Homo sapiens: one gene and its partner. The protein of the gene in region 1 interacts with the protein of each later gene in a biochemical or structural test. Each region holds a gene or a part of one and is shown on either strand. Other genes may lie near its edges.

Evidence for each region.
Region 2: the proteins of LCP2 (region 1) and FYB1 form a complex in vitro, tested with the Homo sapiens proteins (one study listed by BioGRID and IntAct).

What each region holds. Positions count from the first base shown.
Region 1 is NC_000005.10:170,245,607-170,252,888, forward strand, and holds the end of LCP2 (lymphocyte cytosolic protein 2), read right to left. Parts: intron 6,965-7,282; exon of another isoform or gene 6,906-6,964; coding exon 6,828-6,905; exon of another isoform or gene 6,042-6,827; intron 5,280-6,041; coding exon 5,124-5,279; intron 3,214-5,123; coding exon 3,091-3,213; 3' UTR 627-3,090; downstream 1-626. Other genes in the region: putative uncharacterized protein C5orf58, read left to right, coding at 356-507. UniProt on the Homo sapiens protein: Adapter protein primarily involved in signaling pathways within T-cells, as well as other immune cells such as platelets, mast cells, and natural killer (NK) cells.
Region 2 is NC_000005.10:39,216,510-39,223,835, reverse strand, and holds the start of FYB1 (FYN-binding protein 1), read left to right. Parts: upstream 1-4,272; 5' UTR 4,273-4,393; intron 4,394-7,326. UniProt on the Homo sapiens protein: Acts as an adapter protein of the FYN and LCP2 signaling cascades in T-cells. May play a role in linking T-cell signaling to remodeling of the actin cytoskeleton. Modulates the expression of IL2. Involved in platelet activation.

The DNA of each region.
Region 1 (7,282 bases):
GGCAATGCCTCGCCCTGCTTCGGCTCGCACACCGTGCGCGCACCCACTGACCTGCGCCCACTGTCTGGCACTCCCTAGTGAGATGAACCCGGTACCTCAGATGGAAATGCAGAAATCACCTGTCTTCTGCGTCGCTCACGCTGGGAGCTGTAGACCGGAGCTGTTCCTATTCAGCCATCTTGGCTCCTCGAGAGCATAAATCTTATTTTAAGTCAGAATGGGACACACTTAAGTTGTGGTTTGATCACTAATCACTTGGAAATTAGGAATTAGGAAGAAATAGCTACTTAAAGCAATAATAGTTTTTTATGACATATGTGCTACAATATAATATCTCCTGTTTTGTTTTGCACAGAGCTCTCCCAGTTATTGCTTTGTGACCTTATCCTACATTTTAATCATCCCATCAAGACTGAGAACTTAGCAGAAGCAGAAAGAAACAACCCCCTCTTTGAAGAGTCTAAAATATCAGATGTATCCCTTGTTTCTAACAGTTTTTCTATCTGATTTCTTATTTGTTATGAGTTTCTGTTTTATTGTTGAACTAACAAATATTTGGGAGAGTTGAGTTTACTAATTTGTATATATATAATTTAAAACAAAATAAAAATAATGTAAACAAGCAGTTCATGTTCTTGAAGGCTGTTTAATGTTTTGAAGAATGGCTTAACTTACGTCACTAATGGCAAGTGTATGACATAGGAAATTGGCCATGGGTCACTGCTTATCCTTTAGCTTATGCTTGAATTTGGCTCAGGTTGAAAGAGAGCTACTAAATTATTAATTGATGGAATGAGTTTTTATTAATCAGAACTCTCCTGGTAGTGAACGCCAAGCACAACTCAACCAGCTGAAGCATTTATTGAGTCATGTGACTTGGAAGCACATAGTTGGAATAGATTTCAGGGATCCCACTAATTTGTCCATACTTTTACTGTGTTTTTGTGTGTTGGCCTCGTTGTCTTCTATTGTAGACTGGTTCTTCCAGATAATTGGTAAATGGGAGTAGTTGCAGGGCAGCAGGCAGCTCCAAGTGTACAGCATTGCCTTTGGGGACCCCAGATAAAAGAGAGATCTTGTCTCAGGCTTCATGTTTAACATTCCAGAGAGTGACCCTGATTGACCCAGCTTTAGTAAGATGTTTATCACTGAGCAGGGTTCTGAGCAACTGTGACTGATGCACCTGGGGTCATATAGAAGGTCTGTGGCCAAAAGAGGCAAGGCCCAGCCAAAAGGAGTTGTCGGTGCTTGAACAGAGAGAGAATGCTAGTCATGAAAACATTAGCTTCCCAACATTGATTTCAGTCATAGCCATGGAACAGAACATCTTAATCCTGATGGCACTTTCCACTAATAGACTTAAAATGAGCTTTGGTTTGTTTTATAAACATGATTCGCTACCAAATAGTTGCTTTGAAATCTATCAGGTCCTTCATTTTAGATATTTTTGAATTGTAAAGATAGAATACGGCAAAGCAAGACAAGTGGAGCTTACTCGATACTAGAACCTATGGTGTATGCTATCCTTACTACCTTGTACCTAGCTCACTTGTTTAACACAGAAGAGCCACTAAGTAAATACTTGCTGAATAGCCCGTTGTGTAGACGTGTAAATGAATGCAGGGTTTTCAGCCTTAAACTCCCAAGTTTTGGACCCTAAACTGAGAACTTCTGGTTGTTAAGGATGAGATTTTGTGAAACACCATTTTTATCATCAGTTAAAAGTCTCTACCTTCTGCATACTCCTTATTTTAACATATCATCAGTTTTAAAATGGTGACTTCTTAGATTCCTTCCAATACCCCTTTTATTAGCTCATGAAAATGAAGCTGCAAGATACTCTTTTCCATTTCGAAAACTTGTAGATTAAGCAGAGACGCCAAAAATTGTTGCTAATAAAAGTTGTGCAATAACAACCAAGGTCCCAAAGGGAAAAACTTGAAGAACAACTGATTGTCACTATTTGGCTGAATACCAGTTTTTTAATCTGGCTGAATGCCTATATTTTTTGTTAAGTGATATTTGTAAACTGGAGGAAAGAGTTTAATTACCTCAAAGCACTTATACAGCCTGTTTGGGAAGGATGAGGAGAAGGGACTTTATGGCAGAGCTGTCAGGGGGATAACAAGAGACAGAAGAGCCATATCTAATAGGAAAGTCTGATCACATTTAATCTAAAGTGTTGCTCCCTCGTCTTCCCAGGAAGCCTTTGGTAAAATCTATATCCCTGGACAATGCTTTTGGGGTTGGGAGAAGGTTGGTGGGGGGCTGTGATGGTTGGTGTGGGTGTGGAGATGTGAAGAAATGCCAACTTAACCCCAGATGTGTTCATTAAACCTAGACCCACGATACACCAAAGTCTCATCCCTAAATTTAAAATGTTTTCTTTTGGTATTTGTAGTTTAAATTTTCTTTAAGACAAAAATATAACAGTATGGACTAAAAGTCAATAAAGTTGTTTTAGGAAACCAAAAAAGTAAAGCAAAAGACTATTTTAATCCCAGAAGTTATCTCAACATGCATTTGTCTTTTCATAAAAAAATTACGTAAAAATGCCCCCAGGAAAAAATACTAAATAAGAGTGAAATTATATTTTTGAAGCCTCTTAAATTATTGCTGCTGAGAAAACGAGGTTTAGTGATTTTCAAATTACATGTATAAAACTAATGAATGCCTCTGACTGACAGAGGTTTGGCTGTAAAAAACAAATCAGTTTTATGTGACACCAATAACTATTACTGTTTCAGTGTTTTAAAACTTGCCCCAAATTGTTTCTGTAGCTGTGTAAACTACTGTATTTTGAAATGGGCATTAAATAATCTTTTAAAAAATGAATTATTACAGTGCACTACTAGACTTCAAGTGTGAACATGACTCATGCACTTTACAAACATTGAAGAAGAATAAATAAATTATGGGATAGTTGACAGTCTTCATTTCAAACACTGTTTTTAAAGGAAAGGATAAAACCCTTGTGTTCATGGGGAGGGGTTCAGTTCAGTCCTAAGTGTTTGTCCATTGACCAAGGCTGATTGATCTCGTGTTGGCAACAGAGGCAGGAGGACGGTTCATTTGCTCGGCTATAACTTGCTATGGGTACCCTGCAGCATGCGTTAATGTGCACTGGTATCTGGAACCTCGGTTTTTCCCATCAATGAGCAGAAGTGGCATTTTCCTGAAGTAGTCAATAATATCTGACACAGACAGAAAGTCCTGAAAGAGTCAAGATAGGGAGATGAGTCAACATTGGAATGAAAAGCAGGAACTTCACTTTCAGTTTTTTTATCTGCATAATATATGCTGCCTCTTCAAGTGATGAGGATTGTGGGGGGAAAAAATGTAAATGTGGCAATTAGTTTAATGATTTCTGCTATAGAACTTTGAAAAAATTCCTCATAAACATCCAACAAACCATAGATAAAGATAAAATATGGGCCGGGTGCAGTAATTCACCCCTGTAATCCCAGCACTTTGGGAGGCTAAGGCCGGTGGATCACCTGAGGTCAGGAGTTTGAGACCAGCTTGACCAACATGGTGAAACCCTGTCTCTACTAGAAAATAGAAAAATATTAGCTGGGCGTGCTGGTGTGCGCCTGTAATCCCAGCTGCTTGGGAGGCTGAGGCAGGAGAATTGCTTGAACCTGGGAGGCAGAGGTTGCAGTGAGCCGAGATTGCGCCATTGCCGCACTCCAGCCTGGGTAACAAGAAGGAAACTCCATCTCAAAAAAAAATAGATAAAATATGTGCATGCGTGTGTATATATATATATATATATCTACATATCTATATATATATATATGTAATTTGAAATGCATATATTTTTAACTTCATATGAAGGGGTCATTTAAATAGTCACTATTACAATATTCTTGCCTCGGGTTGCTCTGTTTTTGGTTTTGGTTTTGGTTTCTGCATCTCTATTTCACCCCCAGTCATTAATAGTGTTAGGAAACATAAGGACTCAGGAGGTCAGACACGGTTCATGGTGTCTAGAGGTGGGATCTGCAGCATGGCACAGGAGTTCCTTCATGATCTCTCTGCTGTGTCCTCACTGCCACCTTCACACTCATAAAGGCTCAGCAACCAATATTTGCAGCCATAGCCTGGATCGCCCCAGCCTTGATTGCTTGCTAGAGAGGGAAAAGCCTAACTCATTTTTCTAGATGTGGGTCACAACTCACCTAGGAACCCTAACAGGATAATGCACTTCCTTTAAGACTAATCTGCTAGGTGCCTCCCTCCATGGGAGCTGCAATGAGTGGTTGGTCTGCACTTGTGTGTTTCCACACTGGACCAAGATAAATCTTGAAGGGCAAATACCTCTGCTCCTATAGGGTCTGTGCAGCTCTATCCACTGCCAACCAGCGATTCAAACATTTGATCACAAGCATGCATTTTTTTTCTATTCATTAACATTATCATAACAGAAGTATGTGAAGCAGAAGTTATGGGTAAGCTGTTTCTCATTCTGGACATGTTTGATTCAGCTGGTCCTCCTCTTGGAACTTTGAACTTAGAGTATGTTTGGGGCGTTACCTTCAGTTGTTAGTTTCCTTTGCGAAAAACTAGCCCTGAGGGTTTCTTTCCATCCGTTCTGATTAGCACTCAAAAAGTGACTGGCATGAGAATCTAAACCTTGGCCTAACAGAGAATTTCTTTGGCGATCTGGCCATCCTCACAGAGCCAAACCTCCATTTTGTTAAGAAATGAGCCAAGTATTTGAATAATCACCCCAGCAAATATTCTAATTTTTCCCCTTTTCCAGGTGGTGTCAACTTAAAATGCAGCCTACGTTAAAATTATGCCACAGAGGTGAATAATAGTGGGAACTTTCCTTTGACACCATCTAAATAGATTTTTTTAAGTTAACATAGTTTTTCTTGATTTTGAAAATTATACATGTGATTATTTGAAAGAAAAGATATACAAGAAAGAATCCTATGGCAGAAGTAACCATTGTAAAGATTTTGCTTTATTTCTCTTCCAATAAATGAAGGGCTTCACTCATGTGATTTAATCCTAAATTTGCCATACAGCACGGACTCTCAAAGATCGCTCCATGAAGGCATGCAGAGTGGCATAAATAAAGACTTTGGGAAAATGTCGAAATTTGAAATCCTTACCTCTTTCCCTCGGAGTCCAGTTCCCAACAAGTAAACTTGACTTTCCTTCTGATAACGGATCTGGATGTTGTAAACTTTATCTTTGTACAACACCATGAGGACATATGGATTGGTTGTTGTTTTTTTAGAGCTGTCTCTGACCAGAAATGTGCCATCCTAAAAAGACAAATTCCTGTTATTATGGGAGCAGTAAAAGTCAATATTTTTGTTGCTTGTAAGAGTAGTAGACAAGCCTCTAGGGATCTGACAAACATGTCAGTTGCACTTTGCAGCTTCTTGAGTGCAAAACCTGTCATTCAACGAACATTCAGTTCTCCAAACAGCTACATATCCCATGTGTCATGAGTTATTTTGTTATTAAGAAAGGCAACAGAGATTGTATCAAAGAAATTTCCAAGTCAATCTCGTTAAAGCCTCCTGATAAAAACGGAATCTTTTGTTCAGTAATAAATAATGGGTGGTTGAGTGGATAAAAGGCCAGGAGAAATAAAATACTTTATTGGTTAACTCAAGATATATCTTCCTAGTATTCCTGTGAGTTAATTCCCTAAACTTTCTTTTCCACATCCAAAGTCAGAAAACATCCACATGCCATGAAATTCACCCTTCTTAAAACCCTGTGATCTCTAGATAGTCTTTCCTTCATCAGACCCTTGAGCAAAATTGAATGCAGATGTTCTCTTTTCTTTTCTTTTTTCTGATATTTGCTAAACTACTGTTTTGATTGTCCTGTACTTTAAATTTCCATTCAATAAATTATTGCTACATAATATTAATACTGTAAAGATCTAATATTAAAATAGAATTAATTGGTAAGGACTCCTTTAAACTACTCCCTTCTCCTCATACCAAATCAGGATAGCTTTAAATAGCCATGAGTTGGCAATAATGACTTTCCTTTGTTCCTTTTATTGCAAGTTAATTGAGCCTGTCAGAACATCTCTGCTAAACAAACATACTTCTGGACCAGTGATTCACAGTCTTGGCTTCAAATTAGAATTACCTGGGAAGTTTGAAGACTCCCAGAGCTGACACAGCACCCCCAGAATAATTAGAATCTCAAGGTGAGACCCAGGAATCGGGATTTTTCAAAAGTTCTCCGGGTGATCTAAATGTGCAACTACTACTGAGAACTACTGGTGTGGAGTTTAAGTGTGAAAGATGAAAGATTTTTGCTTTCCCATTTCTGATAAATAAATCTAAGGTAAAGTTTCGGCACTGGCTACGGGAAATATGTTTAAGACTTTATGATATTAAAGGACTAGCTAGAAACGTCTAGGGCAAAAAGCAAAAAGTTGCTGCCATCTCTTTAATATTGGTCCTTTCACATCAACATGGATGGCACGTCTGTGTTAAGAGGAAGATAGAACTGGTACGATGTTGGAACTTTGAAAGAGAGTCTCCTTCTGACACCATGTGATTCCTATGACAAGACAGACTCTTTCATTAATAAAATCTCCTAAGATGCTGCCAACCAAATGACTGCCTTGAGATTCTTCTGCCAGCCTAATGATTCCCGAGCCTAGGAATCCCTGCTATGGGTGCTGGTAGTTGTGAAGCTGGCACTAATGGGTCTCCTAGGTATTACAGAAAGCAACAGCACCTAGCAGAATTCCTAGCCTGTAATTGGTACTCAGGACAGGTCAGTTCCCTTCTCTGCCATTAATATTTACAACTATGTTAAAATAAACTATAGCACAATACCTGGTTTATCTTTCTAAGAGCAGCTTCTGCCTCTGGTCGGGTAATATAAGAAACGTACCACTCTTCATTTAATGAATTCTGAAAATGTAAATTTTTAGAAACTGAATAAATTTTACAGTTACAGATGTAAGTGAAAAGAAAAGCCTCTGAGTAATCATTTCCATAAATCAACACCTCAATTCCAGGAGGTCTGAAACATTTGTTTTCTTAATTTGCATTCAGAGTCATTTAGCTGGGGCTAAATAGAAGATATTTTGTGCGAACTGCTTTTTATCATGACACTGGTTGCAAAAATGCCTGTGAATAAGAGTTCCTTACAGTATGGAACCTCTTCAGGAAAGATACAGATACAATAATTTCTTCAGTTTAGCATAATAACCTGCTTGATTAAAAAAATGGGTTATTGAGCAGTTAAGTGACGAATCAAGGTCATAAACATAAAAAACAGGATTATT
Region 2 (7,326 bases), about 130 Mb from region 1:
GGAGTAGTGAGTTGAGAATAAGCTGACCTTCTCCATCTCTACTACACCCACCCCCACTCTAATTCTCTTACCTAGGGTTTTATCTCCTTGTATTGCACAACAGAGCTGCACCAGATAGAGAAGTGGAAACCTAGTTTTTACGTCCACAAAGAATGAGCTACTCATTGAGACATTCATCATTTGCTTAGAATTACTCTTGCATGGGGGAATGGAAGCCCTAAACATTTAATAAATATCCAGAAGCACTGAGGTGTTAGCTTGATTCTGTAGCAGATGTTAAGACCAAAAACTTTATTTAAGAAGCATTTGAATGATTTTTTTAAATTTAATTGCTCAGGTTTCCCTGTAATTTATGAAGGCCTTTAGTGAATAGCCACAAAAATAATGAAAACTTCATATTCAAATAATAACTTAATATTACATTACTGGTTTCCTTTAGAAACATAATGCAAGTAATTCTTTTCAACTTCACCTTCTGTCAACACCATCTCAAGGAGGACTATACATAAAGGAAAATATGCTCCTCATATTTTTATATTTTCCTCTAAATGATAGGGGAAAATACTACTACTATACGGTGTCTTAAAAGTCTTACATTAATTCTCCAGTTCAGAAAATTGGTTGCCTGTAGCCAAAGCATGTAGTAAAATAGGTTTGCATGAAAAGCAATGCTTTTGCTTTTATTTTTTTATTTTTTATTTTTAAATTTTATTTTATTTTATTTTAAGTTCCAGGGTACATGTGCAGGATGTGCAGGTGTGTTACATAGGTTAACGTGTGCCATGGTGGTTTGCTGTACTTATCAACCCATCACCTGGGTATTAAGCCTGGCATGCATTAGCTATTTTTCCTGATGCTCTCCCCTCCATTGCCCTCCCCCAACAGGCCTCAGTGTTTGTTGTTCCTCTCCCTCTTTTATTGATTATAAGACACATAACACAGAGTGACAAGGGGAGAATCAAATGTAATTATCAGCATCATCATCTTGTTGTAATCAAATAATATTACTGCACAAATTTTCCTTTGTGAGCAAAGATTTTATAAAAATAGAAAAATGGGTGTTTATTATTATGTAATAATAAGAAAAGCTCAAAATAAGATAAATTTGAGCAAGTATCTATACTTCCGCTTATTTCGGAAACATACCATCATGTTACTAAACTCACCTCATAGCATTTTAGTTGTTTTTATTAAATCTTCAAACCTTTCAGACACTACTAAGCATAGAGACCATTCATAACAAATGAAACTTTCAGTTTTTTAAACTAAAACTTTCTAAATGTGTACATTTCTTTTCTGCCTTTTTGGAAAGCAAACTTTTAAAAATGTATATACTTTTAGGACACAGAGGCTGAGAGATATAAATTGCTGGGCTCACCTTCCCTTTAGTGGGACAAATGCATTAAAAAAGAGCAAGAGTCCCACAAACCAGGAAGCTGCCCTTGGCCTCTAATACATTAATTAATGTTTATAAAGTGCCTTCTGTATGCCTGGCAATGTACTACAAGCTGGAAATCCAGGACAAATAAGCCACAGTTACCGCCAACCCTTAAGGAACTCATGATCTAGTGAGAAACACAGACATATCTCCAACAACTAAGAGAGAGTACAAGACGCCAGAGCTCAGAAGGCCTTACCCAGTCTTGTGGGACAAAGTTCAAAAGGAGATCATATCTACACTGGGTTTTGGAGCATAAGCAGGAGTTAGCCAGGTGAAAAAGGAGAGGGGGCAGTACATTCCATGAAGACAGGGCGTGTTGCTTGCTTTTGGAGGATTATTTCATTTTATTTTATTTTATTTTATTTTACTTTATTTTATTTTATTTTATTTTTGAGACAGAGTCTTGCTCTTGTTGGCCCGGGCTGGAGTGCAATGGTGCAATCTCAGCTCACTGCAACCTCCGCCTCCTTTGTTCCAGCAATTCTCCTGCCTCAGCCTCCTGAGTAGCTGGAATTACAGGTATGCACCACCACCACGCCCAGCTAATTTTTGGATTTTTTAGTAGAAACAGGGTTTCACCATGCTGGCCAAGCTAGTCTCGAACTCCTGACCTCAGGTGACCTACCCTCCTAGGCCTCCCAAAGTGCTGGGATTATAGGCGTGAGCCACCTCACCCAGTGGATTATTTTATTTTGTTTTGGCCATCTGAGAGAGGTTGGCAGAGAGGAGAAGAAAAACAAGTAATCCCAAATTCCAGTTAGGCTTCCTTCATGGCCCAAGATCAACTGTCCCATGTTAGGTAAAGTCTTCCTCAACTCTTCTGCCCCCATGCAGAAGGAATTACATATTCCTGGGTATTTCCAGATGCCTTTATTCATACTTTGAGCTTAATACTCATCACAGTGTGTCATGGTTAGTTATACAGTGTCTATCTCTATAGTGGTTATAATACATGTTTGGTTGCAGCAAAAGAGACACAACATAACACTGATTTTTAAAAGTTAAATGTCTGTCCTCCTGTTCCCTTCTTTATAACCATCTAGCAAAATCCAGTGAAGATGGGGTTGTCTCCTGTGTTGGGGGCCAGGTCCTTCTATCTCCTGGCTCTGTCATGCCTAGAGTATTACCTTAGTCATCACTGGATCAGAAGAGCTCAGGCCCCCACAGCATCCCAGCCAGCTGGGAGGGGAAAGCATGATGGGGCCCTCTTTTAGGACACACCAAGAAGCTACATAGATCCCTTCTGCATAGATCCCATTGACTAAAACTTAACCACATGGCCAAATCTAATGTCAAGAGGGACTAGAAAATGCCTTATCCTGTGTAGCTGTGGGCCAGGTAAAAAGCCAGAGATCTCTTAGGATAGAATAAGCATCCTAAACTTTTGGCAAACTTTTTCTGCAGAGGACTAGATAGTAAATATTTCAGGCCATATACGGTCTCAGCCATGTCATCATCATTGTTGTCATCATCATTGTTACCATCATTGTCTTCTTTTGCTTCTTCTCCCTTTTCTTACAATTCTTAAAAAATGTAAATTCTTAGCCTGAGGTCTGTACAAAACATTCCACAGGCCAGATTTGGCATGCGGGCCATAGTTTGCTGACCCTACTACTCTATAAGAAGGGAAAATCATACGGGGAGGAAAGTGACCATCTCTGGCATAACGTCTGTAAGATTATAAGCCACTGAGTGGAAAATCCTTGTCTTCTCCATCTTTCTAGTCTTGGCCAGTGCTTGACCCACACAGTAAGTGTTTGATGTTTATGAATGAATGAGTAGAAGGAAGGTGGGGGAGGTTAATTTCACAATCACAATTTGTTAAAATCTCATTTAGTCCCAATGGTAGCCTCTGTTTTGGGGGGTTTCTTTTCTTTTCTTGTCTTTTCTTTTCTTTTTTTCTCTTTTCTTTTTTGAGTTTCTTTCTTTCTTTCCTTCTCTTTATTTTTCTTTCTTTCTTTCTTCTTTTTTTTTTTTCCTTCAGACAGGATCTTGCTCTGTTACCCAGGCTGGAGTGCAATGGTGGTGCAATCATAGCTCACTGAAGCCTTGAACTCCTGTGCTCAAGAAATCCTCCCACCTCAGCTTCCCAAATGTCTGGGGCTACAGGCATGCACCATCACACTTGGCTAATTTTTTTTTTATTTTTGTAGAGACAGGGTCTCACCATGTTGTCAAGACTGGTCTTGAACTCCTGGTCTCAAGCAATCCTCCTGCCTCAGCCTTCCAAAGTACCGGGATTACAGGCATGACCCACTACACTCAGCCCCACTGGTGGTCTTTTCACATGGATTATCATCTAAATACTCCATTTCTTCCAGCCTCAAGAATAGTCTAACAGAGAGCCGACAGAGTGAGTCTAGTGGGCTTTCCACACATGAGTGACCACTCTTCAGTTGATATGGTCAAGCACACCACTTTACCTCCTGACCTCAGGTGCAATTAGCTTCCAAATATTCCACATGCTCCAGTGGACCTTTCTAATTGTAAGCATCCCCCTTTGGCCCCCATTGCAGGTGACACTCCTGGGTGTGTGGAAAGATTATGGGTCCAAAGAACTTACAGCTTCTTCCTCTTGAATAAACATGGTGGCAGGCAGGAGAATCTTGTTTTGGTTTTACCCTTTTAAATATCACATGCTTGGTGGGAATGTTAGCAGAAGTATCCAGGCTGAACAGACACTTTTAAGTTCCCCTTTCTCCTCCTTATTACTCAATATCCTGAGGGCATAATAGAACTTTTCTTGTCTAAGTTTGCCTGGTCAGGGGAGGGAGGTGTGGCTCACTCAACCACTGACCGGGACAAAACCCTGCCAGGCATCAGAAAGCTCCGCAGTTCTTGAGTTCCACATGCAGAGCAGATGCGACAGCTAGAAGTGAGTAGGGCCCAGACCCTGGCCCAGGAAGATCCACTAAAGGAGGCCATCCTTCCGCCTTCTTCTGCAGGAGTCAGGTAACAGCTATGCCTAGGTTTCTTCTTTCAAATAAATGTGTAATTTTTTATAGCAGGAAAAAAGCACCACTTCCAAATTCTGGCAGCACAGACTGTGCTAGCTGAATAACTGAAGGAAACGCATGTTCTGTTGGAAAATAGCAAAAGAGATGAACAGGAGACACTAAAACTCAGCCTCATGGTAGCCAAAAGGATGATAAGCAGATAAAAATGTGGCCGGGAACGTGTCTGTCACTTGCTCTTTCGTAACTGGATAAGGCCTCTCATGTGTTCTTGTTGGAACCTCTGGTGCCACTAGCGTTAAATAACGTCTTGCAGTGAAACCAGAAACAAGGTTTTATTGCCAACAGAGCTGGGCACAGATGGTTTATTTCATCCTGGTTCCTAACAAATATGTGTCCATCCTTTTGATGAGAAAGAGTAACTTTCAATTTCCTCCAAACCTGGCAGGAGGTGAGGATTCACATGAGATTTCTACATAGACTAAAGAAAGGGACTATACTGCCATGAATTATGCCTTCTCAGAAGGAATCCTGGCAAACTGGATAAATGATGACAAACAGCTGCAGATCAGCCAAGGAGGCCTTTCAAAGCAACCAGCAACTCCAAATTTTCCTCGGAGCCTTTGGCTGTCTTGTATACATTGCTGATTCTTCTGAAAAATTCACAAGGTCTTTTCCCCCCATTTAACTTGATTTGCAGGGAAGTAATTAATAGAAATGGGCCTCTGACTCTGCCTTCTATTAGCTGTGTGACTTTGGGAGAGCCACTTAACCTCTCTGTGTCTCAGTTTTCTCATCTAAACATGGGGATAATAATAGAACTCATCTCATGGAGTTGTTGAGGGGATAAAACTATATACACTTTTTGAGTACTAATGTAAAATAATAATTAATATTCACCATTTTAAATATTTTTTCATTAAATACAAATAATTCTGCGTGGGAAACAGATGGGCTTATCACCGGAAGGGTGAAGTTGTGGCTGTGATTTTCTGCCCATGCTATGGGAATGCCACCGGAGGTTTTAGGTAGAGTAAAACGTCCCCATGCAATGTGAGATACACACACTTCAAATAGTCCGATACCTTAAGAAATTAATCATAAGTGATAGGTGAGGGGGAGGAGGATAAGGGTGCTCTTTCCAATAAAACCACATGTTTTATGATGTACCATTAAAGGCGATCCTGAATATCAAAGGCGTTATGGTGCACTTAAGGCACCCCGTGGAAAAGTTGACCATCCGTTTCAAAAAGGAAAGGCTAAAAAGGTTTCCATTTCCCTTGAGAAATTATTGTAAAGGTTGAAATCCACACTGCCTGACTGTCATGTCCATTATTTGTTTACTACCATTGGGCTTCAAATTCCCCCCAGCTTCTGCTGGAGTCCAGAGGCTTGGAAGCTCGCAGCAGCTGATTTCTGGTGCAATGCTGCACCTTGCCAAGTTACGGCTGCTTCATAGAGCAATCACACTGACATCTAGTGGTCTAAAGAGTAAGTGCAGGCGGTGGCTTTGAAGCTTTTACCAGCCTCAATGTGCTTTAAAAACCACATTTTCCACCATTTACACAATACGTTAACAAGAGAGAGAGATCAGGGATGTAGAAATGATATTTCATTTGTCTGAGGTGTTACTAGAGGCTGCTCTACAGGAACATTTCTAAAAACAAGAAAGTGAAGAGAGTGAACCGTGGCTCGCTGGCGGGTTTGGGCTGTGGTTCCAGGGGTTGCGGTTAAGACTGTGACTCCAGAATCAAGATCCTGAGCTTGAAGGTGGTCTCTGCCACGCACCAGCTGTGGGCCTTGGGTGAGTTCCTAAATGGTTCCATGACTCAGTTTCTTTATCTGTCAAATGGGGATAACAGTAACGTCTCCATTGACCTGTTTTGAGGTGATCCCTGAAAAGCTCCTAGCACAGCACCTGGCCCAGAAGGCAATCGGGGTTGCCCTCTGTTCTTGTTGTGACTGTTTTTTAAGAGCAAGCTGCTGCAGAAGCTGGCACCCCACAGGTCAGACAGCATAGCGCAGTGGAAAGCTCAGAGGATGAGCAAGGGAGAGACCCAGATTTTAGCCCAACTGTGTGAACCTGGACAGATCCCTTACGCAGTTTCTTTTTTGTAAAATGAAGGACCTTGGTTCGCTAATGTTTAAGGATTTTTTCCTTTCTCAAACGTTGTGTTCTAAACCTTGTACAGGCTTCTAATTGAAATTGTTCTACCTTTAAGGCCCATTTGTCTCCTTTCTTTTTACCAAAGCCCAGGGCCAAGCATGTCCCAGGTGTTTATTATATAGTTGCTGACTGATAAGAAGTGATTGTTGGAATGCTCTCTATTGGTCACTAGGAATAAACCAAGAATGTCTTTGGGCAGGAATGAAAATCCAGTGGGAAGCTCTGGAAGTCAAGGAATATTTCCCCATCAGAAGCTGGTCTGGGGTTTCTCTGATAAATTTGGAAAGCTCAGTGGTTGTCTTGTTTTTCTACCTCTGCTAATCAGCCTCTCTAAACAGATAAGAAACCAGGAAAATCATTTAGCTATATAAATTCAATACATAACCTTGTTAATCACGTTGCTGCAGCCTGCGCCTTGTGAGTTGGTCAGAGCAGTGGATGACTTTGCTTCTAAGTGCAGGTGAAATGCCACCAAATTCACATGCTGCCTGTGACCAATGCCTAACTCAGTCTTTCCAAGCCAGGGATAATCCCAGCTGGGATGTCACCTCTAATATGGCAACAAATGGTGGTGCAGCAAAAAATAATCATGAAACAGTCTTTCTTCCCTTCTTCCTAAACTTCATCCACATAGACTGTTGGATATTTATAGAAATCCAGCACAAACACAGGGAGGGGAACGACACACACTGGGGCCTGTTGCAGGGCAGGGGGAGAGAGAGCATCATGATAAATAGCTAATGCATGTGGGGCCTGATACCTAG